7 linked regions of the Homo sapiens genome follow. The protein of the gene in region 2 purifies or fractionates together with the protein of the main gene of each other region. This does not show direct contact. Each region holds a gene or a part of one and is shown on either strand. Other genes may lie near its edges.

Region 1 (4,116 bases), on a different chromosome or scaffold from region 2:
TATCAACAGAGAAAAACATATGAAAATGCTTAACTATACCAAAATCAAGCTTAATTTAATAGATGTTACTTCTCTTTAGATACCACAATCAAAACTTTTTAAAAAATGTGTTAGGTTTATTTCTTCAGGAAAGCAAAATTTTCTCAAATATGATATTCTCAAAATAACCCTTTCAATGCTTTCAGTTTCACAGATCAAATGAAAGTTACCTCATCATTTTAATTTTCAAAGTGAAATTTGAATAGGGTTATAATTTCATGATTCTCTGAAAGCTAGCAAATGTTAGAGCCTTGACAGAAGGTCAATGACTATTGAATTCTCTTGTATTTTCTTTAGCTTCTCTAATCTAAATAATTAGAAAACTGGGGATGCCATTGTGCATTTATTCTAAACCAATGAACGTTGTGTTTTCTCACAAAGAAGTGCATGCCCCAAGTGCTCAAGTTTCTTAGGGATGGAAGATTCTAAAACACAAGAAAGATGCCCTAACTTGCTCAGGATTCTAGAAATACTCGTTAGCATCCTGACCTAAAGCAATAATTTCCCAGATGCAAGTCTAGTAAACTAAAATAAAAGACACTCTAGAGTTCTGAGAGAGCTGATGTTGCCACCCAAAAAATATAGTCCAACTGTAAGCATTAAAGAAAATCAGATCTTAAACCCCTTGTTAGGTTTGCATTTGGTATTTCTGATAAAAATAATTATAATTTTGTGAAGTGCATTTCCAAACAAGAGCTCCAAACTTTTATAAACATTTTGGCTACTATTCAAAAAAGAGTAGAAGCAGATAGGCAGTAGCCATATTCTGAATAATAAATGTGAACCACAGCTACAAGCCTGCAATTAAAAGTCCAGAACTTTGAGTTCTTCTTCAGTGATTGGTTAATGTTATTTCTACATTCTACATGCTGTCATTCTACAGTGAGATGACGTAACAAAAGGAAATAAACAACTTGAGTTCCATCCATTTGGAAGGCGGTGTATTAGAGAATTTCTGCCCCTGTGAATTGTTTTCATAGAGTTGAAAAGAGCCAAATGTTTAGAATGTGGAGAGGGAAACTAAAGTCAAGATTTCAGGTGTGTAGCCAAAACTTCTTTCGGCTCTTAAGTAAGGAAATTTGTTCTAGCATTTTCTCAAGGTTAAGATACATTTGTAAAATATATATCTTCTTTTATGTAAACCAAAATGAAGGAAATAGGCCAAAAGAAGAAAATAAAGGTTTGAAAAGTCATAGACTCTTTTTTCTTTTGGAAAACAATTCATCATATTAATTTGCTTTATTTGTCTTAGTATTGTTATCTTCAAGAACACAACTGAACAATACATTCATTCATTAGCAGTCAGTAAATATTTATGAACATGCAATGTGTTAGGCACTTTTCTAGCCCATATTCTCAAAACCAACAATTTAAGAAACTCTAATATTTTGGTAGCTTTCTCCATGTACAACCTGTAAATGTACATTAGCAGGAAACTTTAATAATAATAAACAATAATAATAAAATAAGTTGGTTTTATAATAATAAAATTAACCAGAATCCAACTAACTAGAACCTGCTAGAATTTGTTTTCTTATTACTCTTTGAAAATAGAATCAAACTTGGCCAGGATATGAACTCTACCAGGAATCCAGAGAAACAAACAAACCAAAAAAAAATCCAATTCTTCCTATTGTATGTGTCTTCAGGTCAATTACGATGAATCCAATATTATATGCTTTTAATCACAGGAATATACCTCTGAGGTGCCCCCAAAATTAAATATAGATTTGGAAGGCCTCTAAGCATCTGAGGCACATTGTTTTACATCACCATTTTCAGGTAGGTAAGTGGACTAATACCCTTTAGAAAATAGTTTGTTCGCATTTTTAAACAACAAAGTTAAAATAAGATAGTCAAGCCTCAGTTAAACAGAAAGTATGGTTAACCACAAGTTACTGCTCTTAAGGAAGACAAGTTGCTAAAACACATGGACTCTTCTAAACGTCACACAGATGAAGAAGTGCACTAAATACAGTAAATAAAAATACATATGGACATTTTAAAATATATGTTTTAAAATGCAATATTTTAAAATATAATTATATTCAACATTTATTGAATTCTAACTGTATTCAAGGCATCATGCTAACATGAATACAAAAAACATAATTATCACACCCTCAGTTATTTCAGTAGTTTAATCATCTTTTAGTTACTTATGCAGTTCATAATAAATGTTACTAGATGCTCTCTAGATGAATAACATTTTAATTTAAAAAAAATTCTTTTTAAAGTCCTGCCATTCAATAAGTTTAGCTTTTTTTTCACAATCTTGTAGGTTGCAAACATTCCCTTATTCATGAAACACACTGTAAAAGTTTTATACGTTTTGCTAATTAAAACTAAATTTCAAAATGACCTTCCATCTGCCTCCTGTTCTATAAACTATCCCTTTTAGAAGTGTCATGCAGAGATCTAATTAAAGCATTACCAAGAAAAACACCTGGCTGTATTGTCTTAACATGTCATTTTCATATCATTATTTACTGTGGCATAAACAACAGGCACAAAAATAGGAACTGTTTTTACCCAAAGCGCAGCTCTCCCATCTCTCTCTACATGGTATAATGCCTCAAACATGTATACATATTTAATATTTTCCAAACAACCAGCAAAAGTCATTTTAAAAAATTAAATGATGAAAATGACTTACCCTCCGTAGTTCACAAAGAATTTTTTCAAAAAGTCTCAAAAATCAGGTTGATGTTCTCAAAGAGGAAATCTATGCCCAATGAAGCCACTCTTGTGTTGATATTCTGGACACTTCTCTGATGGTGCAGGAATTTAAACTCTGCTGCAGCTCTTCATAGCCAATCAACCTCAGGCTGGGGGTGACTGACATCACAAGGTGTCACCGGGACCCCGGTACACCCACACTTCCTCCAGCTGGCAGAGGCACATTTTCCCTAAAAAGCTCTTGTGGTTCCCAAATGACTAGACTAGTTTCCATTAAATTGAAGATCTTCCCAAAACTTTATTTTGATTTCTAAATATATGTCATTCACATTCAGGCAGTCTTATGAACAATGACAATGTCTTCTACCCACCGACAGATCCCAGCAGACCCAAGGATGGGAAAGGCGGAGGCAGGGGTGGGTAGAAAGTTTCCTGTTAATGTACATTTCCAGGTTGTACATGGAGAAAGCTACTAAAATACTAGAGTTCCTTAAATTGTTGGTTTTGAGAATATGGGCTTTTATTTCTTCCTTTTTCCTCTTTTAACAACCTCTACTACTCACCTCCTTTTCCTCTCATCTCCCCACCCCCATATACACACAAAGTTCCCAAACTCCTACTAATCTAATAAAGCGTCCACTAAAGTACCCCCCTTAAGTAGCTATTGTGTTATTCAAGAAATTTAGATCTAACACTTAACACTTAATCATTCCCTGTTTGCCACATTTTAATGATTCTTTGAAATCAGAATTGGATTAAGGGGAATACTAGCTGGGTAGCATCCAAGGAAACTAATCTTGAAGGGACTCTGTGCCACCACTGAAAATGTAATGAAATGGATAAAATGATATTTACCAAAACATTTTCGAGGAAGCGTACTAAAAGTTGTAGGGAGCTGGAAATGGGTTTGGCAATTTCCCAGGAGCGTGTTCAAGTGACGGCAGGATGGCCACTGAACAAGAATTTAGAGAATATCAGCTGCTGGACCTTAATTTCCTTAAGAGTAGGGATGTTTGCTTGTCTACTGATCTATAATCAGTGCCTGGATACCTAGAACAGTTCTTAATAATCACTCAGTACTCTTTGAATGACTGAGTGGATTGGCTTGAAAATTAGCCAAACTATTAACTTGATTACAGTATCTGCATAACTCACTGTAACTTTTAAAAAAATGCTTTAATTGTTAAAAAAAAAATTGAGCTGATGCTCCTAACATGGATCTAGAAAATTAGAGTGCCCAATTTATTCAGGCAACTAATGTCAGATATATGGATTATCAACATATTTAGTGTGAACTATAATATGCGGGGGAGGGTGGTGCAGACAATGAGGAAAGAGATGTCTATTTTCATTTAGGGTTGATTAGAAAGCCAAAGTCCATATGGGGAAGCTATAAAT
Region 2 (3,500 bases):
TGAAGCAAATGCCAAAAGGTTTTCTCGGAAAACTGTCTTGCAGCTAAGCTTAAGAATTGTATGTGAGCTATGTTCTTCTTGTTTTTAAAAAATTGTTTTGAGTACAGTAAAGGCTAGTTTATGTTGAAGCTTGGTCCTCTGCTGGCTGGTGTTAGGTACTGCATTAACTTATTCTGTATGATACTTTCATAGCTGGATATTCTGGAATATATTCACGAGCATGAGTATGTGCATGGAGATATCAAGGCCTCAAATCTTCTTCTGAACTACAAGAATCCTGACCAGGTAGTTTTATAACTTTAATTTCTACTATTTAAAGCGTGTTGTTTGAAAATAAATATGGTTGCTTTGAACTTTTGAACCTGTGTAGAAGTTTTACTTTTTGAAGTAGATATGGTAATAATATTTCTTCTTGACACTTTGATCTAGTTAACATTCTACATTTTTGATGTGATTTGTTGGCACTTTATCAAGTTGGCTATTTTGCCCTAAATAATATTCAGAAGAAGTGCTTGTGATACAAAATGAATTTCAAATAGCTATTTGGGGGTGGAAGCTTAAAATTATATAGTACACCAATGAATTATGTTTGCCTGTCTGCTTTGTCACTTTTTTTATTCCTTTGTTCAAGAAATCCATCAAATGTAAGTGTTCTATTACTTGGAAAATTTGGTCTTTAACATGTTGATTATTCAAATCAATTGGTTTACAGAAATATCTTAGCTGTCTAAATTTGTATACCCTTAGTGTTTGGAATTCAAATGTGCATTTTTTTTTTAGCTTATTACATTCCCTTTGTAATTTTTACTTTCTAAGGAAAGGAGAAAAGCTAATGTTATTATACCTTTATTTAGGTCAGTTTAGTTGAAGTAGAGGGATCTATACAATTTTCCTGTATAACTGTTTCTGTGATTTCGGTGAAAGTAAGGTTTAGTTGACATTCATACTTAATGTATGTTCTCACTTCTTACTTGATCTTACATAAAAAGGAAGATTTAAACATTTTAAATGTGTTTGGGTACTTTGATTATTGTAATTATTTGTCAGTACTCTGTACTTCATTCTTTCTCTCAAATGTACCTTTAACTACCTTTGCTTAGTTTTTCCTTTTTCCTTTGGCTCTCTTTTCTTTTTCTGTCGTCTCGTATTTGCTTCCCTTCCTCCAATGTCAGTTATGGTGGATAGAAGGGAATCTATATAAGTATAAAAGAAGAAAGTTACTATACTATTAAGATAGTGTGCTAATGGAGAAATCTTAAAAAGGCAATCATCAAATTCATCTCTGCTCTTTCTAGCCATTTCTTTTTAGATATTTCTAGGCTAAGAACAAAGAAAACGCAGCTAACAACCTGAACAATAAGGGTTCCATTAATTGAAATAGTCTGGACTTGTACAGTATAATAAAATACAACTTATATCACTTTGTAGGTGACTAAAACATGCTGCCTTTGTTTATATGGAAATATTTTTGCAGCTCTGTTATCCTTCAGACATATGCTTTGGATGGGATTATTTTTCCAGTGTTAGATGTATGTGCTAGATCTAGCCACATATTTTTACTTCAGTTTCCTCTTGTGCCCAGATGCATGCATTTGTGACATTTACTCAGAATTAGAGATGTAATGTGTGGCTATGGAATGGAAGAAAGCCAAGTTTATTAGCTTTGTATGCTAATCAGACCCACATGTATATGCCCACGAATAAGTATGTATATAATATTAAAATTTACTTTTAATCATGAAGACTTGGCTTTAGAATATAGTATTTAGATATAGATAAAAGCCTGATCTAACAGTTCTTTAGATCATTATTATGATGTATGAAATGTTTTTATAAAGTAAATTGAAATTTGATTATTTTACAAGTGAAGAAACAGAGGAATAGAAGGTAACTAACATATCATGTGTCAGCATCATTAGCAGTCTTCTACTGGGTGTGCTTTTCTGTGTGGAAAGTAGCAGTTGTATTGCAACAAGTATTGACGGTTTGCTCTGTGCTCAATTTTAGAGTCTGTAAGATAAAGTATAAAATGTATAATTTTCGTTCAAATTGAGACAAGATTAATTACAAGTATAACATATACTTATCTTAAAAAAGTATATAAAGTCAAGTGATTACACTGTAGCTATGTGGTCATTTAACATTTTTATTAAAAATAAAAAGCCTTTCAGAATTAAGTATTTGCTGTTGTTTGCATTTTGGATCTAAATTGTTTGGAGTGTTATGGAATGACCTTGTAGGTGAACCCACCTTCAGATGCCAGTATTTTGTTTCTGTGCTTTAAAGGGTTATATGTGCAGTGATTTTGACTTTAGTTTGTCTTGGTGCTTGGAAATTTATAGGTGTACTTGGTAGATTATGGCCTTGCTTATCGGTACTGCCCAGAAGGAGTTCATAAAGAATACAAAGAAGACCCCAAAAGATGTCACGATGGCACTATTGAATTCACGAGCATCGATGCACACAATGGCGTGGGTATGTCAGTAGTACTGGAGTGAGAAATAGACTGCTAATGTTTTCACCCAGATTCCTACATAGTTCTTAATTATGCATAAGTAAATGAATAGATAAATAAAAATTGAAAAGGCACAGTGGCATGAGGAAAGAAGGCAGAGGTGAGACTCCTACAATTGTATTCCAGGACCATCTGTGTTCTTCTGTCCTGCCTTTTCCTCGCAGCCTTCAAAGATAACCAAGAAGGTGGTAGTGGTTCATTCAGCTGCCATGAGGATTTCTTTTTGGTTTTATTTAGTTTAATTGGAATGTTTGTTTTTGTGTTTTTTCTCAAGTTTCTTATGTATCTACAACTTTGTAACAGCTAACTTTTATTTTGTTACCTGTTAAGTTAGTTTATTTCTTCAGCAGTCATTTCTTCTGTGCTCAAAGCTGTGGAAGAACTCAAATACCCAGTTCTCTGGGCCTCTTAATAGCATATAAAAATTTTAAGAATATCTTCAAGTTTTCCAAAGGAAAACTAGTTTTATTTCTAGACTAACAGTCTCCGCTTGAAACCCTGAAATTTACCAATTTGGGTTTTAAAGTAGATTATTAGCTAGAAGTTAATTGGGAGGTAAGCTATTTCTTTTATACTGTCCAATGTTCAGTACCTAGGTGAAATGCAGTCAAAATTTTATGATGAAAAACAGACTGTGGAGTTGACTTGTTTTATGTTATTACTTTATATATACTTTAAATTATACATTAAAAATTATTTCAGTCTACCTAATGTTCTTCTCTTGCATTTGTAGCCCCATCAAGACGTGGTGATTTGGAAATACTTGGTTATTGCATGATCCAATGGCTTACTGGCCATCTTCCTTGGGAGGATAATTTGAAAGATCCTAAATATGTTAGAGATTCCAAAATTAGGTAAAGGAAAACTTAAGTTATTTCTAGCAAAATCATGATAAGCCAAATGTTTTTAGTCACAATTTCTTGATAGGAACTATAGTTTCAACTGATACTGATATAGAAATAAGAAAGTACTTGTTAAACAGTAA
Region 3 (3,958 bases), on a different chromosome or scaffold from region 2:
AGTTTTGTGTTATTCAAGGATGAAAAGAGGTACATTTAAAAATGTACTCCACCTTTTAAAAACGGACTGTGGCCATTATGGTGTTCACATAACTCAGAACAGCCCAGGCCATAAAATTAGGACTTGGCAGAAAGAGAGTTCTCAGGCAGAAGGTTAAATCGAGGTAAACTGAAGGGAGAGTTGGGCAGTGAGTGCAATTGTGGTGTTAGGAATCTACAAGGTGCCCTTTACCCTGGGAACATCGGATTCCCGGGGAGGGGGATGGGGAGGGAACTTCGGTTGCCTCTAGTCTTTCCTGGAGAAAAAAGTTCAATGAAGAAGCTGGGGCGCTCTGTGTGTGCACATTGTTTGCATGTGTCTGCGAATGTGCATGTCTATCTGCGTGCCTGTGTGTATGTGTGTGTGTGTAAATGCGGGTGTTTACCAGCGCATGAATGCCCCCGTGTCCACGTGTATCTGCGTGCATGTGCTTACACGCGTGTTCGTGTGTATCTGCATGCATGTCTCCGTGTATGTGCGCGCTCGCCCGCCCGCAGGCTCTGTGGTGAGGGCATTCCGAGGCGGAGTACGGCTGTCAGGGGACCTCTCCCACTCCACTGCAGTCCCTTCCCACTCACAGTGAACCGGTGCGCTGCCTGAGGTGCAGCCTAGACGCTTCCTGCAAAGTGTTGGCTCGGCACGGTAGAGGCGCAGGTAAAGGCCAAGCCCCGAAACGTGGCTCCGGGACAGTCACGTTCCCGCGCCTTCCCAGGACAACTGCCCAGGGGTGACCTCGAGAGGCGGGTGGAGCTAGGCCCACGGCGAGCCAGCCCGGGATCCCCGGCCTGTCCCTTTAACCCCGCCGCCGGGCGGGAGCACGTGAGCGGGGCTCCGGGTGGCACCCGGGCGCCGCCGCCGCCGAGGCAGTTGTATTTCGAACGCTGCCTCTGGCTAGCAGCCAGGCGCCTTGGCTCGGCGGTCCGCCTGGCCTCCCTCCTCCTCATACTTTTCTTCCTGCGCAACCCCCTCCCCTTTATCCGCCCACGATTAGAGGTGGGCACTCCCCCCACCACCACCCCCTCCCCAAGCGCAAGCGCGTGCACGCACACACACCACACACACTCACACTCACACACACTCACACACACTCATCCCACTTGAATCTTGGGGCAGGAACTCAGAAAACTTCCAGCCCGGGCAGCGCGCGCTTGGTGCAAGACTCAGGAGCTAGCAGCCCGTCCCCCTCCGACTCTCCGGTGCCGCCGCTGCCTGCTCCCGCCACCCTAGGAGGCGCGGTGCCACCCACTACTCTGTCCTCTGCCTGTGCTCCGTGCCCGACCCTATCCCGGCGGAGTCTCCCCATCCTCCTTTGCTTTCCGACTGCCCAAGGCACTTTCAATCTCAATCTCTTCTCTCTCTCTCTCTCTCTCTCTCTCTCTCTCTCTCTCTCTCTCTCTCTCTCTCTCGCAGGGTGGGGGGAAGAGGAGGAGGAATTCTTTCCCCGCCTAACATTTCAAGGGACACAATTCACTCCAAGTCTCTTCCCTTTCCAAGCCGCTTCCGAAGTGCTCCCGGTGCCCGCAACTCCTGATCCCAACCCGCGAGAGGAGCCTCTGCGACCTCAAAGCCTCTCTTCCTTCTCCCTCGCTTCCCTCCTCCTCTTGCTACCTCCACCTCCACCGCCACCTCCACCTCCGGCACCCACCCACCGCCGCCGCCGCCACCGGCAGCGCCTCCTCCTCTCCTCCTCCTCCTCCCCTCTTCTCTTTTTGGCAGCCGCTGGACGTCCGGTGTTGATGGTGGCAGCGGCGGCAGCCTAAGCAACAGCAGCCCTCGCAGCCCGCCAGCTCGCGCTCGCCCCGCCGGCGTCCCCAGCCCTATCACCTCATCTCCCGAAAGGTGCTGGGCAGCTCCGGGGCGGTCGAGGCGAAGCGGCTGCAGCGGCGGTAGCGGCGGCGGGAGGCAGGATGAGCGCACGCGGTGAGGGCGCGGGGCAGCCGTCCACTTCAGCCCAGGGACAACCTGCCGCCCCAGCGCCTCAGAAGAGAGGACGCGGCCGCCCCAGGAAGCAGCAGCAAGTCAGTACGAGGGCGCGGTGGGGGCACCAGCCCACCCCGTCCCCACTGCCGGGGCCCAGACACGCGCGGGGCGGCCGGAGTGCGGGAGCCCAGTCGCCGCGGCCGTCGCACACTGCCCGCCGGCCGGCCGGGGGGAGCGGCGCAGACCCCACGAGTGCGCCGCGCGGCCCCGGGGCGCCAGCAACCCTCCGGGCGGGGAGGTGGGGAGCCGCGGCGGGCGGCCCGGGGAAGGCGGGAGGTGGGGTCGGGCGAAGCGCGTCCTCGGACTTTCGCTATTGTGCACGGCCCCGAGTGGCGCGGTGTCGCCCAGTGACTGGAAGCGACCGGGATCCGACAAACCCGGGCTCGCAGGCGCTTTCCGAGTTGCTTTTGCAACTGCCCGGGAGGAAGGAGGTGCCGGGGACCCGGGCGCTTCGGCCGATCTGGGCTGAAGGGGCTAGAGTCTTGGGGGCCGGAGGCTCTTTCTCCCGCCTCCCGGGGCTGCTCGCGGGTCGGGGGCTGGCGCGCCGCAGCCGCCCCCTTGGCGCCCTCCTCCAAGCTCTCGGTGGCCCAAGACTCGCGCCCTCCCGACAAAGAACGCATGGAGACCCGGCTGCCTGGTCCTTTTTGGGCTCTTTAAATATGCGGCGGCCGCCGGAGGGAGCCCGGGGCAGGGGCTACGGGGAGCCTGGTTCCCCGCAGGACGGGGTTAACTCGCCCAGCTAAGGGCGCGTTGAAAGGAGTGTCCAAGAGAGTGCAGGGTAGCCAGGGTCGCTTCCTTGTCAGGGGCCCGGTCCCCCTTTTGCCCCTGGATCTCGCGCCTCAGAGCTGCAGCCATTAAATGCTCTTCTCCAAGGCCAGTGGCCGGGGGTTGAGTAGGGGACGATCGAGGGGCGCCCGGGACCCTGCGGAGTGGAGGGTTTTGTCTGCGGATGCAACCAATTAAGCGTGCAGCCGGCGCTTGCAGAGCTGCGCTCAGCGCGCAGGGCTGGGGGTTTTGTTCGCTGTAATTTCCAAGCCGCGGCGGGCAGAGTTGGAGCGGGATATGTCTATTGAGAACATTTAAACTCCACTTTCTCGGGCTTTAAAACTTGCTCTCTGCTTAGTCTTAAATCGCTTCCTTCATGGCAAACACGCCGATTAGAAAATAATCCTAGAGTCCCAAAGTTGTCCGAGAGCAAGGTGGGGAAACTGAACAATGTTTGCTTGCCAGTGCATTTTAGAAAAATTGAGAGTTGTACCTTTTTGAAATCATCAAAGGAAACAAGCCGATCTAGAGGCCCCTGAGTTTTCCCGCTCTGCCCAAGCGACACTTTACACCGCATTTGAATCCTGTTTTACACCTCCCAGGAAGTCTCTGCCCTCCCCCACTTGTTTCCCACCCGCCACCCAGTTCTAACTCACTAATTGCCCCCCCTCCAAAAAAAAAAAAAAAATCCAAAAGAAATTACAATGGGGTCTGGAGGTGATTGGATACTTTACCTTTGAGTTAAGGCAGAGTTCACAAAGAAAGAAAAATTTGTCTCCGATGTGTTTGCTCTCGATGTGCCCACTGGTGCTAGTGGTCCCACAGAAGCTTGCAGGGAACCTTCCCGAATTCTCTAAATGGGATGCGAATTTTCATTGAGGACGTTCATGGGTTTTAAGTTAATTAGTCTCACTTAATCACCGAATCTGAATGAAATGTGAATAGATGATTCACTGGATAAATATTTGGGATCTGGAATATTAATCATCGCATTCTCTTAACCACTTGAGTATTTACTACTTGGCATAGGAGCCATTTAAAGTTTTGCTAAACCAAGTGATTGCTTCCATTTCTCATTCCCAGACACTCCATTCCTCCTCGCTTTTACCTCCTTTTAGTTTTCTCCACTCCACCCCCATAAGAGTTTTCTCAAAAGAAAGTTTTGAAGAAAATA
Region 4 (2,515 bases), on a different chromosome or scaffold from region 2:
CCCGTCTCTACTAAAAATACAAAATTAGCCGGGTGTGGTGGCGCATGCCTGCAATCCCAGTTAATCGGGAGGCTGAGGCAGGAGAATTGCTTGAACCTGGGAGGTGGAGGTTGCAGTAGGCTGAGATAGCGCCACTGCACTCCAGCCTGGGAAACGAGCAAAACTCCGTCTCAAAAAAAAAAAAGAGTCTCACTCTATTGCTCAAGCTGGAGTACAGTGCTGTGATCTTAGCTCATTGCAACCTCCATCTCCCAGGTTCAACAGATTCTCATGCCTCAGTCTCCCAAGTGGCTGGCATTACAGGCATGCGCTACCACACCCGGCTAATTTTGTATTTTTAGTAGAGATGGGGTTTCTCCATGTTGGCCATGCTGGTCTCAAACTCCTGACCTCAGGTGATCTGTCCACCTTGGCCTCCCAAAGTGCTGGGATCACAGGCTTGAGCCACTGCGCCCAGCCTGCAGCTCATTTCTTACCGCATAAAGCCTCGCACCTCTCCACAAAACTGCCATCAGGGATGTCCCCAGAAACCATTTATCACAGGTGCCACGCAGAGGACAGCTTCCTGTTCTCCTTTTCCCTTTACCTCTTCCTTCTCACCTCATCTTGTTCATTCATTCATCCGTATTCCATTCTCACTCTTACGCTTTACCTTTCAAAGGCCTGTCTTTCCCTGTAAGTAATGTATTATAATTCCCACCATTACCACATGCTTCTCCAACCCACCAAACTGCTATCTTCAGTTTATGGTAAGTCCATAAACTAAGAAGAAATGGGACACATTCATTGCGAACTTGGCAGCCCCTCATCCATCCTCACAAGACACCGCAGATGTTATTCTCTTTGAAGACCAATCTTGTGTTTTAAAGACAAGTCTCACTCTGTTGTCCAGGCTCTTGTGCAGTGGTGCAATCATAGTTCACTGCAGCCTCCAACTCCTGTGCTCAGGTTATCCGCCTGCCTCAGCCTCCCAAGCAGCTGAGACTACAGGCACACACCACCACGCCTAGCTAATCTGTTTATTTTTTGTAGAGATGGGGTCTTGCTATGCTGAACAGGCTGGTCTTGAACTCCTGGCCTCAAGCGATCCTCCCACCCTGACCTCCCAAAGTGCTGGGATTACAGGCGTGAGCCACTACACCTGGCCTGAAGACTTGTAAATGCTGCCAAATTCAAGATGCGTTGAAACTCACCTGTATTTGATAAGCCTGCTTTTCGCAAGTAATATACAACAGACTGAAATACCTTAAGTTTCTCAGGCTTTGTACCCTTCTATGGAATAATGAGTGTATCCCAAAAGTAAATCCATGATGAGGTCCCGTTTTTCGTTCCTCCTTGGCTACAAAATAGACAAGGAAAAGGCAAGCCAGCCATTTCCGATTCACTATAGCTGACTCTCCTGTTTGCTTTTTGACCGTATTTGGGAGGCGGGGGCCTGATTGCTTTCCTACTTCCTAAACACAACTTACTTTTCCTAGAAAATTCTCAACGCAACCTACATGGATTAAACCAGCTTCCCCAACTTTGTTTCCAATATTCTTACAATTGAAATGGCCAGAATTGGAAAGGCAACCTGAAAAAATGAGGACGGGTACGTTATCCCATGAGCCAAACTGCCACTTACACTGTTCAGTCATGAAATCGGCAAAATTCCAAATGAGCTCTCCAACCACGTATTTTCTGCGTTTTTGATCCAGACCCAGATGGTACTGCTCTAGCAGACTTTTCTGGTACTCTTCAGTGAACATCAGAGGTGGATCCTAGGATTCAAGGCAAAGAGAATGTAAGAGTCAGAACTGGCAGAATTGTAAATGTTAGATAAAAATAAAGATCCACTTGATGGTGACCAAAATATCTGTCTTCACAGGGGGCTATAGTGACTGCAGGACTCACTGATGCTGGGGTAAAGACAGCCAGGGAATGATGTAACCCAGAATAAAAAAGGAGGTTTAAAAAAAAAAACAACCTTAATGAGCAGCTGCTTTATTTATAAACGTAATTTGACATTCGTTTCACATTACTTTTCCACCTCTATCTGCTGGTACAGTCTTAAGGCTAAACTACACTACAGGCAAAAATATGTCTTTCAGTCAGGTGCAGTGGCTCATGTCTGTCATCCCAGCAATTTGGGAGGCTGAGGTGGGAGGACTGCTTGAGCCCAGGTGTTCAAGACCAGCCTGGGCAACATAGCAAGACCCCATCTCTACAAAAAGTACAAAAATTAGCCAAGCCTAGTGGCACACATCTGTGGTCCCAGCTACTTGGGAGGCTGAGGTTGGAGGACTGCTTGAGCCCCAGAGATCAAAGCGACAGTGAGCTGTGTTCACACCACTGCACTCCAGTTTGGGTGACACAGTGAGACCCTGTCTCTAATAAATATATATATATATATAAAAATTAAATTAAATTAAACTCAACCAAACCAGGCTGGGCATGGTACCTCAGGTCTGTAATGCCAGCACTTTTGGAGGTCGAGACAGGAGGATCACTTCAGCCCAGGATTTCAAGACTAGTC
Region 5 (3,500 bases), on a different chromosome or scaffold from region 2:
GCCACTGCCTGTACTCCAGCCTGGGCAAGAGTGAGACCCTGCCTCAAAAAACAAACAAACAAACAAACAAAAAAAACACAAAAAACCTGTACAGGCTGGCTGGCCCCCTGTGGTCCCTGCCTCCCTTCTCCAAAATGGTGCTTGAAAATCTACCAGAAGGAGGTTCAGCACTGGGGTACACATGCCCACAAACATGGGTCATTTAGCACCCTCTGGGCTGGTACATTGGGTAGGGAGACCCCCTTGGGCCAGTGATGCCAGTTACTACCATGGCTGTGGCTACCAGCCAGCATCTGCTGCATGCTTCTGGTGTGCTGGGCGTGGTGTGTGTCCTTGCCCACTGGCTTGCTTTTTTTTTTTTTTTTTTTTTTTGAGACAGAATTTCACTCTGTCCCCCCGGGGCTGGAGTGCAATGGTGTGATCTCCGCTCACGGCAACCGCTGCCTCCTGTGTTCAAGTGATTCTCCTGCCTTAGCCTCCCGAGTAGCTGGGATTACAGGCATGTGCTGCCATGCCCAGCTAATTTTTGTATTTTTAGTAGAGACGGAGTTTCACTGTGTCGGCCAGGCTGGTCTCGAACTCCCGACCTCAGGTGATCTGCCTGCCTAGGCCTCCCAAAGTGCTGGGATTACAGGTGTAAGACATAGCGCCTGGCCTACTGGCTCTTTTTTCTTTTGCTTTTGAGATGGAGTCTTGCTCTGTTGCCCAGGCTAGAGAGCAGTGGCACAATCTTGGCTCACTGCAAGCTCCGCCTCCCGGGTTCACGCCATTCTCCTGCCTCAGCCTCCCCAGTAGCTGGGACTACAGGTGCCCGCCACCACGCCAGGCTAATTTTTTGTATTTTTAGTAGAGACGGGGTTTCTCCGTGTTAGCCAGGATGGTCTCGATCTCCTGACCTCGTGATCCGCCCACCTCAGCCTCCCAAAGTGCTGGGATTACAGGCGTGAGCCACCGCGCCTGGCCGCCTACTGGCTCTAACAGCCCTCTGTGGGTCCCTTTCATTAATCTCACTTTACAGATGGTGAAACTGAGGCTCCCATTCCAGGCAACAGTGAAGGCATTCAGCATGGTTTTCTACCCTTTCTGGCAGCAGGAGCACTTTGAAGCTAGGCTGGGACTGTTCTACCTAGGATGAGACCTGCACCCTCCAGGGGACCAGCTCTCAGACCTGTGAGAGGAGGCGGTGACGTGGTAATCCCTTGAGATGGCTGACTTCATGTAAATCTGATGCCGTCCTCCTCTAAGTCTCAAAACTGTCCTCTGCTGAGCTTGGGGGCTGCCCCACACCTGGACCAGCTGCTTGGAGTGGACGTGGCCAGGACAGGACAGTCACACCAAGAAGGCCCTTGGAAGAGTGAAGCAAACCTGAGGCCGGGGAGGGAGAAGTCACCAGGCGCCAGAGCCACAGTGCCACCGTGCTGGGGGCGGGGGGTGAGGTAGAGAAGGCAGCAGAGAGGGCGGCGGCCTCTGCCCAAGTGCGAAGCCAGTGAAACAAACGACAATAGCTTCCTATGTGCCAGGCATGGCTGGAAGCCTCATGCCCACAGCAACCTTATGATGGGATTACTGTTATTTTACCTGGGTTACCAATGAGAGCTGAGGCTGAGTAACCTGCCCGAGGGCTCCAGGCTGGTCTCTGACCCCTGCAGCTGCCTCCAGGCTGGAGTAGGGGCCCACAGGACCCCACATGCTCAGGGTGGGCGCACCATCCCAACCACAGCAGCTGAGAAATGTCAGAACACTCCCCTCCCCGCTGCCCATGCTGGGAGTGGGGCCTGGGGTTTATTCTAGAATTTCAGGTTTTCAGCTCAGGGCTGAGGCCTCCTTCCCGCCTAGTCTGGGATGGCCTCCTGGAGATCTGGAGTCCAGCGTCCCCAGTTCCTGACCCAAAAGGGATGACGAAACACAAGCCGGCTGCTGTCTGTGAGTGGCCCTTGGTGTCTGGATGTTTAAGCATATGGGGGTCCTCTGGCTGAAGGCTTCTCTCCACTTACTGCACGGAGGCCCCAACCACCCTCAGGCAGGCATATGAATAGCATTTTAGATGTGAAGAAACTAAGATGCAGAGAGAGTGAGGCCTCAGGCCCTTCTGACCCCAGCTACCCAAGAGGAGGGCAGGGGTGGCGGCATGTAAACCCTGCCACAGGTGGGGCCTCTGCAGACACCACCTAGCCCCCTAACAATGCCCGGAGCCCGCTATGGGTCCCTCTCACCCCAAGCATTCCATGGCCAGGCTCCATCTGGATAGGAGGTAGGGGTCTATGATGGCTTTGGGGGAAGGGCAGGCAGGGCTCAGAGATAGCAGGCGAGGGCAGTTCCCAGAAAAGGCCATCGAGGAAAAAAGGTATCCCTGAGAGCTGGCTCAGAGGTTCTGCCCTCCAGAGCGCAAAAGTGAGGTCAAGGTACCGAGGGGTGTGGCAGTGCTGGGGCCAGGGACACAGCTGCACCCCAAGCCCCTTCCACATGCCAGGCAGGTCCCACATGATCCACAGAACCCCACAATCCTGCTAACGGGGTTTGACATTGTGGAGTTCTCAGAGCATGCGTGACTCGCCTGGAGCTATGGAACCAGCCCTCGGCAGAGCTGGGATTTGAACCAGGGTCTCACTCCAAGGAGCATGGCGCCCCCAAGCCACTGAGGCAGGAAGGGGTGGTGAGCCAAAAGTGACCCTGGGAAGCCCCAGACTCTGCCCATTCTCCCAGGATGTCCCATCTGTCTGGCAGGGTGTTCCTGGTTCCGACCTTCCCGGGGCAGCCCTAGTTGCGCAGGCTGTCAGGCCATTTCTGGAGCATGGCACAGCAGACAGGCATGGGCTGGGCTGGCAAGTTCCAGCCCCCGCGTGGTGTAGGGAAGCTAGCGCCTCTCCAACACACACTGTCTCCTCAGTCCAGCAGGACCTTGTGTGTGCATGGGCGGTTAAGACACCCATGGGCCAGGGACAGGATGGGGTGGTCGGTGCTCGGGGCTGACCCCTCCTCCCTTCGGCCGGCCAGTGCTGGCTGCAGGGGATGTGGAGACGACCTGATCTCAGCCTGGTGGGACGTGAGTGTCGGGGAGCCCCTGGTGAGGCTGCGGGACCGAGGATGCCGTGGGGACAAGGCTTTCAGGAATGGGGCTGTGAAGCAGGGGAGGTGGCAGCCAGCTGGGGCTGGTGATCTGAGGGTTATTATTTTTTGATGACGGGAGAGACTTGAACCTGTTTCAAGGCGCTGGGAAGGAGCCAGTAATGAGAGAGAGAGAGAGAGAGAGAGAGAGAGAGAGAGAGAGAGAGAGAGACAGAGAGAGACAGAAAGCAGGAGAGAGGCAAAAAATCACTAACTGGGAAGGGGAGAGGGAAGAGGCCCAAGGCCACCATCTGCTGGGTAAGCAAGGCCCGCGGCACCAGGAACCTGCAGGAGTCCTGTCGGGGCCAGCCTTCCTCTGAGGTGGAGGGTGGAGTGAGGTGGGCAGGGCGTCTGGGCGTGGAGAAGGTCTCCAGCCATCCCCATGGGCAGTGGGA
Region 6 (4,280 bases), on a different chromosome or scaffold from region 2:
CCAATAATAACAAACATCATTAAGCCCAGCACTGTGCTACACACGTTATCTCATTTCATTCTCAATGCAACCTTATTTGACAGATAAAAAAACAGGCTTAGAAAGGTTAGGTTCCTTGGGAAAAGTCCAACTAAATGTGTTGGAGAGACAGTATCTGAACCTACATCAGCCTGACGTCAAAGCCCATAACTACCTCACTATATTGCCTCCCATAAAATCAAACCAGTCTATATGATCAATGATGTATATTATGGACATAAAGATGCTCATATAACCTTAGAGTAAGCATCAACTCTTAAAGAAGACTTACAGGAGTGATTATCTTTTTAATAAACTTCTAATTCCATAAGATATACTCTATAAATAAAACACTAAGTGATCTTCACTTCTCTTTATTTTACTGCATTTCCCATATTTTCCATAATCTGCTTTATAATGAAAATTCCTTTAATCAATAAGTCAATTTCAGTTTCAAATGGATTTTTCTATCTTGAATGAGATGCTCCAAGTTTTGCTAAATTAGCAATGAGTTTCCTATGGAGCTTGAAAGAAATAAATTGTCATTTAATTATCTACAAAATTATATAACAGTTAATTAAAGTACTGCTATCAAATGTTAAAGCCAACAATCCACTACGGAGCAAAATGTTTACCATTATAGAACCAGAGGTCTTCAGAGGAAACACCGATCAGGCCTCAACACTTCCAAATAGTGAATGAGAACTTACAATACCATTTGGCTGTCTAAGTCAATTTTCCGATGTCTGATTTTAGTGACAGGGGTAAAAGCCATTAATTCTGAAAGTCATTATTTTGCATGTATGTGTCCATCTCCTCCTTCTTCCTCTCACATACCCTCTACTGCAAGTCCACATGGACCACTAACTTAGTATCTGACATTTTCTCTCCTGGCCCTAGTCCCTTCATACTTTCATTCTACATAATCGGAGTAATATACAACATTCAAAGAATTTCAACAATAAGAGCATGGCAAGTTATTTTGCAATGTACCCTGGCACGCAAACATAAGTGATTAAAATGTTTTGCTGCTGTCAGTAGCACCCTTTTTATAAGAAGCAGTTGTCAATATAGCACAAATTGCTATTCAACTCACCCAAACCTCACCCAAACAAAGAGAAAACGAACTAAGTAACAAAAATGCCTATATGAAAGCTCCCTTGAGGTATTTAAAACAGGGACGGGGGAACAGACCGTCAAAAGTCCAGAAAAATGTAACACTTTTTACTTTTCTCCGAAATACCTAGGTTTTCTGTATAGGAAATGACCCTGGTCTGAACTCTACGCTGAGCAAGTGAAATGCCGGCGAATTATCGATCTGTCGTGGGAATCCAGTCTCCCTTCCTCCTTCCGCTGCAGTTACTTCTACTTCCCAGCAAGAACTGAGCGTCGAAATCCTTTAACTTCAGGACTAAGCACTTCAGTCACCTCTCCAGGACATCCATTCAGCCCTCACCCCGTTACACCTGCGATGCTGACGTAGACAAGCACTTCTTTTAATAATCTCACCCTGACAGAGGGACGACCTACAGTATTAACTGCTGTGAAAGTCATCCCCAATGCGCTCTCAATTGAGCGCATTGAATGAGGCTTTCCAAATTGAAGTGCAAGTTGCTGTAGAAATCCCAATGCATTCTTCTTTGAGATTAAAGCCCCAGAAAGAGCTGCATTTAGAATACACACACACACACACCCCTTTTCCCAGGGTTTTCTTGAACTACATTTGGAGAAAATGCTGCCCCACACAGACACACTTGCATTATCGCCATCCCCACCATTTCAGGTTCGGCTGCCCCGGAAGAGTCTGGTTAAAAAGAAAAGAGAGGAAGCGGGGGCTGTATGTTACGTTCGCGGTTTTGTCCCCCCAAAGTTTCAAGTACACATTACGCTCTGGCAGTCAGGACTTCCAGAGACGTACAGAGAAAGAAAGAAAGAAAAGGCGCGGGGAGCGGGCTGGAGGATTCTGCAAGCACAGGCCCCTATGGAGCGCCCGTTCGGGGGACGGGATTTCCCTCCCTTTCCCCTCCCCCGCCCGTTCGGAATTCCGCCCCCGCCGCGGGCCCGGAACAATGCAGCCGCCCGTCCCGGGGACCAGCCACTTACCACCCAGGTCAGTGCCCCGTTGCCGCCGCCCACGCCGGCTCCCGCGCCGCAGCCACCCGACTTGGCCATGGCGAGTGCCTCCAGCTCACAGGCCCTGAGGCCGCAGCCGCCGCTCCCGCCTCCCTGCGGGCCGCTGGGCCCCGCCGCTCCGCACCCACCGCTCCACTCGCCGCACTCCTAGCCGCGCCGACCCCCGCGCCCCATCGCGAAGATCCGGAGCGGACGTCCAGCCGAGCCCGCTGAGGAGGCCGCGCCGCCGGCTGCCCTCAAACTCGAGGCGCGGCGTCCGCGTCGCCCGGGCCTAGCGCGGCGGCTGAGGAGAAAGCAGGGAGCGACCGGCGGCGGCCGAGCGGCGGCGTTGCCTTCTCGCCCGCCCGCGGGCGCCGCTGCAGGCCGGGCTGAAGCCCGGGCGTGCGAGCCGCGAGGGCGGCCGGGGAGCCCGAGGCGCTCGGACGTGGCGAGGACGCAGAGGTGCCTTGTCCTTCTCACACTCCGCGAAGGCCAGCCACTCGAGTCGCCAGAGTAGTCGTCCCGGTCGCCGCCGCTGCTTCAAAGGCAGCCTTAGCCTCGCTGCAGCCCCGATTTCCTCACACACACACACCGAGAGGGACAATAAACAGAGCCGCCGCCGCCGCCGCCACGGTCACCTCCCTCTTGTCCGGCATAACACCGCACACACACATTTGCACACCGGGGAGAGAGGGAGGGCGCGGCGGCCGCCCCCGCTGTCAGTCAGCGCCATGCTGTCCAATCCGGGCCTTGTCGCCACAGCCTCTCGGCCAATCCCAAAATTCCAAGCCCCCTGGAGGGGCGGGACCCGAGGGGGGAAACGTCATTGCGGGTAGCAACCGAAAGGAAGACTTGGGGTTTTTGTTTGTGTGTGTGTCTGTGGGTTTTCCATTTGAAGGGAGAGCAGGGGCTGCTTCAAGGGTCAATTGAGGGCGGCAAAGGGAAAGGGTCGAATTGGCCTCGGGTCGATTGTAATCCTCCAAGCGTGCTGTTTACTCTGAGACCTAACCGGGAATCCGAAGCGTTTGCCTGGGGCCTCTAAGGATGAGGATGGGGGCGGGGTGGGGATGGGGGTGGCAGGAAGAAGCCGGGGGCCGTCCCAAAGGGAAATTATTTTAAAAGAGCGGTTGTAAACCGCAGGCAAGACGTTGTAGACCACTGGTGCAAGGAGGCCCCGTGACCCGGCCTCCCCAAGGGCCTAAGTGGACGCTGCTGTCGAAAAAAATCATCTCAGACCTTCTCCATCTCCTTCTTCCGTCTCCTCCCCTCACCCCAAAAGAGCATATGGTCAGTTTCAAGAAAACTACATATGAAAAGCTTAAATGATAAGGGACACACAGAGAATGTTCTAGGGAAAGAATGCAGGGTGGGTTGAGTGTTCTATTTCTACTCTTTGTTGACCTTTCTTCTCTGAACAATGCAGAGATGTCACTGTCACTTTTCTCATCTGTCCAGAACTGTGCCCCCTGCCTCTAAGAGGGCATGCTTAATTTTTAAAACTGTTTTCAGTGGAATTTTCAAATGCACAGTAAGGAATAATTTCATTCACATTAAAGCTTTCTAAGAATGAAAATTACCAATACAGCAACATCACAGTCTTTGGCAGATGGAAGATGGCTTTACTTCTTCCTGTTTTTCAGTGTAATTCCACTCAAGTATTTATTGGGCGCACACTCTGCCACGCTGTGCCAGGCTCTGCGATGGGTTCAAAGTAAAAACAAGGCCCCTGATTTCAAACCATTTATAACCTGGCTTGTGAGACAGACTAAAAGGGAGCCAACGATCACCAAAATGAGTACTTGAAGGCATGAAGTGCCACCAAAGAGTTGTGATGAAAGCTTTTTATAAAGATGAAAACAGTATTACTGTTTTTTGAAGAGGTGTTTTTGTGAACTTCCAACTGTGCATTTCCTCTCAAGGGAAAACAAAAATGTCTCAGGTCACATCTTTAAACTGCATTCTGAGTCTAGAGGTGGAGAACTCTGAAACATGGAAATAATTTAAACATAGTTTTTTTAATTAGCTCTCTGATGGCCATGTAACTTTGCCATACTAGGGACTTCAGAACAGTGAAGCCTTTCTTTACCTTGAACTTGGGGTGCAAACTTTTCTGAACCTGACCAAGTATCCATAGCCTTGTTATTTAACTT
Region 7 (4,299 bases), on a different chromosome or scaffold from region 2:
ACTTCCATTCAAAATAGGTGAATTTTGAGCATAATACATAGATAGAAAGAATGCTTACTGTATCTTAAATCTGCGATGCAGACTAGGGATAGAAATTCACTTTACTAATAATTCCTCCCCCCACCCTCCCCCCAAAAATTAAATTAACTCAAAATCAAAATTGATAGCTCATTTTTACTGAAAAAAAAAACAAAAAAACAAAATGATATTCCTACGAGGATTAGCCATTACCATAATTTAGCCAGATAACATTAAGCTGCTTCATTTAAAAAATGTAACATTACCAAAAGATTAAGAAAATGCAGCATTCCTCAGTGACTTAAGGTTTGTGGGTTTTTAAGAGATGCACAGATGTAAAAGCAGATGCAAAGACGAGTTTTGTAAAACCTGCCCCATCTTAAAAATGGAGTATTATAATCTTTGCGATAATTTTTTCAAATATCAAGGAAGACATGTAAATTCACTGAAGACTTCTATCAAGTATTTGTAAACCTAAAAATTAATTTCAAATTAGTAAATCTTGGAGTTTACTTCCAGCTCCATTCACTTTGGCCAAGAATTGAATGAAAGTAACCCAAATCACTCCTTGAAAATTAACACACGTTCAGTGTGAAAATGAATACACTAATACACTGTTAAATCTCCATTAGATGTATTAAACCTCAGTACCCTTGCTTATTTCAACAGCCTTGAGCGGTTATCAACATCTTATATTAAACCACAAGAGATTTATACACAAAAGTTAGGAAATACACTACATACCAAAAAAAGCGCCATTATAATCATGTCCTGCTTTCACCTCACAAAAGACACTCATTCTAAGCTCGCTGAAACTTCCTAGTCATTAGAGAAGTTCTGATGAAGTAACATTAGTAATCATAACTATCTCAAAACAGTTACAAAAGCCTCATAAAATCAACACACTACATAAATTTCAAAGGCTTGGTGGGTCCGGTGCGACTGCTTTAACTGCCCCACACACATATTCACACAACGAACCTGTATCAGTTTAGGAGAAAGTGTTACAGAAAATATAGCTCCTTTAAAGTAACTTCCAATCACAATACTGAAGTGATAAATCCACTTCTGAAAAGCAATTTTTAAAGATTCCTAAAATACTCATTTTGACAACCCACAAAATTAAGGTTTTTAAGCTATTAAACAAAATATGTCCCAATATAAACACAACTTTCATAGGCCAAGTTCCATCCCACAGTAAATATGTGGACAAAAATCAAAACTCTTCAGTGTACTCCAATAATAATTTTTAATTAAACGAGAGGCATACCATAAGAATTAAAAAAAGCCTACTAAACTTCTGGTTTTAGGGAATTACAGGCTTTACACTTCTGCAAAGATGTGTTTTAGTAAATGCAAGACGAAGCACTGACCAACTATCATCACACATCAGAATCCTTCCAACAAAAAACCCAGGACTGAATTTAAGGAAAACAAAATAAACGACAGAGGGGGAAAAAATAATGTCTTGCCACGGTACCGCAGCGGCTGGATAGCCTGCTTGTGAAATGCTAATGCCACTTCGGAGCAGTTAGTCACCAGCTATTGTGTAGGGCAGGAGAAAGCCGAGCCGGCCGCGCGTGCAGAGCGAGCAAGCGAACGAGCGAGCGCGCTCTCCCTCTTCGCGCCGCTCCCGCCGCCGCCGACTCTCGCGCGCCCCCGCGCCCGCACGGACGCGCGCGCCGGCCCCTCCTCCTCCGGCCTTGCACTGCACAACACTCATGACGTATCTTTATTTCTAGCACATTAACAAAATATCACAAATAAATTGTCCGCAGCCCCTGCGGCCCCGAAGTACGAGTACCCCCGGCCACTGGCCCCCGCAGACCCCGCGCCGGCCTCCCAACCCTCCCCATGGCCTTTGGAGCTTTCACGTTCTAGGGCCAAGTTTTTGTCTCTGTAAAAAATTGCGGGAAATTCAATTTTTATTCGACTCAGGGAAAAGTTTCTTTGCTCTGCGACGTGAATGTCTCACCAGATTCTGGTAGGTCCTGGGATGCTCCTTCCCGGTCCAGTCGGTGCGCCGGGGCAGCAGCTGCGGGGAGAGGACACCCCGTGAGCCCGGCCCCCGGCCCCTACCCGCCCGCTCCCCTCCCCCGCCCGCCCCGCGCCCCGGCGGGGACCCCGAGCCCCGCGCCCCGCGCCCTGCCGGCGGCGGCAGCGGCGGCGCAGCGGCCCAGAGGCGGCCGCGCGGCGGCGGGACGCGCCGGGCCGCCGCCGCCCTTACCTCCTTCTCGGCCACCTCGCGGATCAGCACCTGCAACAACAAAGCGGGGAGAGCTGAGCCCCGCGCCCCGGGCCGCGGCCCCGCCGCCGCCGCCTCCCTCCCCCACGCCCGCGAGCGGCGAGCGCCGGCCCGGCCCGCGCCGCGCGCCGCCGTACCTGAGCCGCCTGCTGACAGGGTCCATCTTCCAGGAACCGGGCGATGAGGAAGTAGAGCTCTGCGCGGGAGAGAGGGACGGGGAGACACACAGGCTGAGCGGTCGGGCGGCGGGGGGCGGGGGACCGCGGGCGGAATCGCCCGGTGCCAGCGGCCCCGGCAGCCCCCCGACTTACCCGATCGCAGCTCCGAGAGGCCTTTCCTCTCACAAGACATGTTTATGGGTCACTTCAGGGCCGCCGACGGGACACCCCGCCGCCGAGGGGAAGCGGGGACGGTGCCGCCGCCTGCCCTATAGCTGTCAGTGTGTGTTCACGAGCCGAGCTTCGGCTCCACCATTCAAGCAACGGCGGCGGAGGCGGAGGAGGAGGAGGAGGAAACAACAACTCTCAGGCAGCGACTACGGCCGTGGCCGCCTCCGCCGCGGATCCCTCCGCCGCAGAAAGGAGTCCGCCGCCTTCGCGGCCCAGGGCTCGGCCCCGGCTCTGGCCCGCGCCCCCGCCCCCCGGCGCTAAAAAAGGAGTGCCTCCGACCCCTCGTCCCCAGCGCTCCGCACGCGGCACAGTGAGACCCCCACCCGCTCCTCCCCGCAGGGCGTGCGATTTATTTATTTATTTCCAGTCGGAGAAGATGTCGGAGCCCAAGCCGCCGGTTGGCTGGAAGGCGCTTTCTCTGTGGAGGCCGATAGTGGCAGGGAGGGGGCCGGGGACGGTTCCGCGGAGGGATCTGACGCACACGGAGCCGCAGCACAGGCTCTATTCAGCGGCGCTGGCTGGAGCTGAGATGGAAGTTAGTTTCTATGTAGCAGAAATATGAAACAAATGAAGCAAAACTGCCCAGAGAGGGGAAATGCCCCAAGGATGGGTCTCACTCACGCGCGTACACAGACACACACGCAGAGAGCACTCTCACGCTGGGCAAGCTCGGGATCGCGCTACCCTTCCCGAGTTGAATGATAGTGTTTGGTTTCTGTCTCTTGCCATGTGCATGTGTATAAATGCTGCGGATTGGCATCTGTGTAAGTCTTGTCCTGCGTTATTTCTGCAGCCTATGCAAGTGTTGTGTAATTTATTGGAGTGCTGTATATTGCAATAGAGGTTTGGGCTGCTTTTTGTTAAGCACTTGCGTTTTGCAAACCCGTTATTTGCTGAAGCCACCTCTGCATATTTCTTTTATTACTGCCATTGCCTTTGGCGTACGTTTTTTAAATGTTTTTTATTGTTAAACGGGCAAAGCGAACTCTTGATTTGTACTTCAGATACTCTTTTTCCTTATTACAAAAAGGCTAGTGATGGCTAATTAGGTATTTGGAATTAAAGAACCTTAAAGCTTTTTTAAGTGTTTACGAGAAGGGAGAATGTAAACCTGAGGGAAAGGAAAGGACGCTAATATTCATGTCTAACTGATCTGGAGGTAATTTAGTGACAGATCGATAACCTGCCTAAGGATATTGAAAGAGTATACTACAGTTTAGCCAAGGTGAATAGTGATTAAATAATTTAAATAATCTGTGTATCTTGCAGTTGACTTCGTCATGCTAATTAATGGCTTCTAATTTGAGATGTAAACCATTCCTGTTTACAGTTAATCACGGGAAGACTTCTTGAAAACTGACGAAAAGGAGAAAAAAAAATCTTTCGTAAATTAGTATGTAATTACCGATTTTATATGCTAAATCATACATCTGTGTTTTGCTGATGAGGATAAGGGCCTTGTTTTTAAAAAAACGAATATGGGTGAAATTAATGGAAACAATAGAAAAAGCCATTTGTTAGAAAACAAGGACACCAAATGATATTTATCTCCAGATGATTTAAGCACTTTCCAAAAAGACTTGAGAGTTCAATATTTTTTAAGGATTGCATTTTAAAGGGAATTTGGATAGTCGTTCTTTTGTTAAC

Evidence for each region.
Region 1: the proteins of VRK1 (region 2) and DMP1 purify together in Homo sapiens (affinity purification with mass spectrometry, with the first as the bait; one large-scale study listed by BioGRID). This does not show direct contact.
Region 3: the proteins of VRK1 (region 2) and HMGA2 purify together in Homo sapiens (affinity purification with mass spectrometry, with the first as the bait; one large-scale study listed by BioGRID). This does not show direct contact.
Region 4: the proteins of VRK1 (region 2) and GUSB purify together in Homo sapiens (affinity purification with mass spectrometry; one large-scale study listed by BioGRID and IntAct). This does not show direct contact.
Region 5: the proteins of VRK1 (region 2) and RAI1 purify together in Homo sapiens (affinity purification with mass spectrometry; one large-scale study listed by BioGRID and IntAct). This does not show direct contact.
Region 6: the proteins of VRK1 (region 2) and TOP2B purify together in Homo sapiens (affinity purification with mass spectrometry; one large-scale study listed by BioGRID and IntAct). This does not show direct contact.
Region 7: the proteins of VRK1 (region 2) and PHIP purify together in Homo sapiens (affinity purification with mass spectrometry; one large-scale study listed by BioGRID and IntAct). This does not show direct contact.

The regions. Positions count from the first base shown.
Region 1 is NC_000004.12:87,648,964-87,653,079, reverse strand, and holds the start of DMP1 (dentin matrix acidic phosphoprotein 1 isoform 1 precursor), read right to left. Parts: upstream 2,801-4,116; 5' UTR 2,696-2,800; intron 1-2,695. UniProt on the Homo sapiens protein: May have a dual function during osteoblast differentiation. In the nucleus of undifferentiated osteoblasts, unphosphorylated form acts as a transcriptional component for activation of osteoblast-specific genes like osteocalcin.
Region 2 is NC_000014.9:96,852,882-96,856,381, forward strand, and holds part of VRK1 (serine/threonine-protein kinase VRK1), read left to right. Parts: coding exon 1-58; intron 59-192; coding exon 193-285; intron 286-2,342; coding exon 2,343-2,475; intron 2,476-3,248; coding exon 3,249-3,369; intron 3,370-3,500. UniProt on the Homo sapiens protein: Serine/threonine kinase involved in the regulation of key cellular processes including the cell cycle, nuclear condensation, transcription regulation, and DNA damage response.
Region 3 is NC_000012.12:65,823,325-65,827,282, forward strand, and holds the start of HMGA2 (high mobility group protein HMGI-C), read left to right. Parts: upstream 1-1,158; 5' UTR 1,159-1,946; coding exon 1,947-2,057; intron 2,058-3,518; exon of another isoform or gene 3,519-3,650; intron 3,651-3,958.
Region 4 is NC_000007.14:65,962,699-65,965,213, forward strand, and holds part of GUSB (beta-glucuronidase isoform 1 precursor), read right to left. Parts: intron 1,761-2,515; coding exon 1,625-1,760; intron 1-1,624. UniProt on the Homo sapiens protein: Plays an important role in the degradation of dermatan and keratan sulfates.
Region 5 is NC_000017.11:17,799,958-17,803,457, reverse strand, and holds part of RAI1 (retinoic acid-induced protein 1), read right to left. Parts: intron 1-3,500. UniProt on the Homo sapiens protein: Transcriptional regulator of the circadian clock components: CLOCK, BMAL1, BMAL2, PER1/3, CRY1/2, NR1D1/2 and RORA/C. Positively regulates the transcriptional activity of CLOCK a core component of the circadian clock.
Region 6 is NC_000003.12:25,662,108-25,666,387, forward strand, and holds the start of TOP2B (DNA topoisomerase 2-beta), read right to left. Parts: upstream 2,801-4,280; 5' UTR 2,191-2,800; coding exon 2,122-2,190; intron 1-2,121. UniProt on the Homo sapiens protein: Key decatenating enzyme that alters DNA topology by binding to two double-stranded DNA molecules, generating a double-stranded break in one of the strands, passing the intact strand through the broken strand, and religating the broken strand.
Region 7 is NC_000006.12:79,075,455-79,079,753, forward strand, and holds the start of PHIP (PH-interacting protein), read right to left. Parts: upstream 2,801-4,299; 5' UTR 2,615-2,800; coding exon 2,575-2,614; intron 2,460-2,574; coding exon 2,401-2,459; intron 2,276-2,400; coding exon 2,246-2,275; intron 2,054-2,245; coding exon 1,994-2,053; intron 1,813-1,993; exon of another isoform or gene 1-1,812.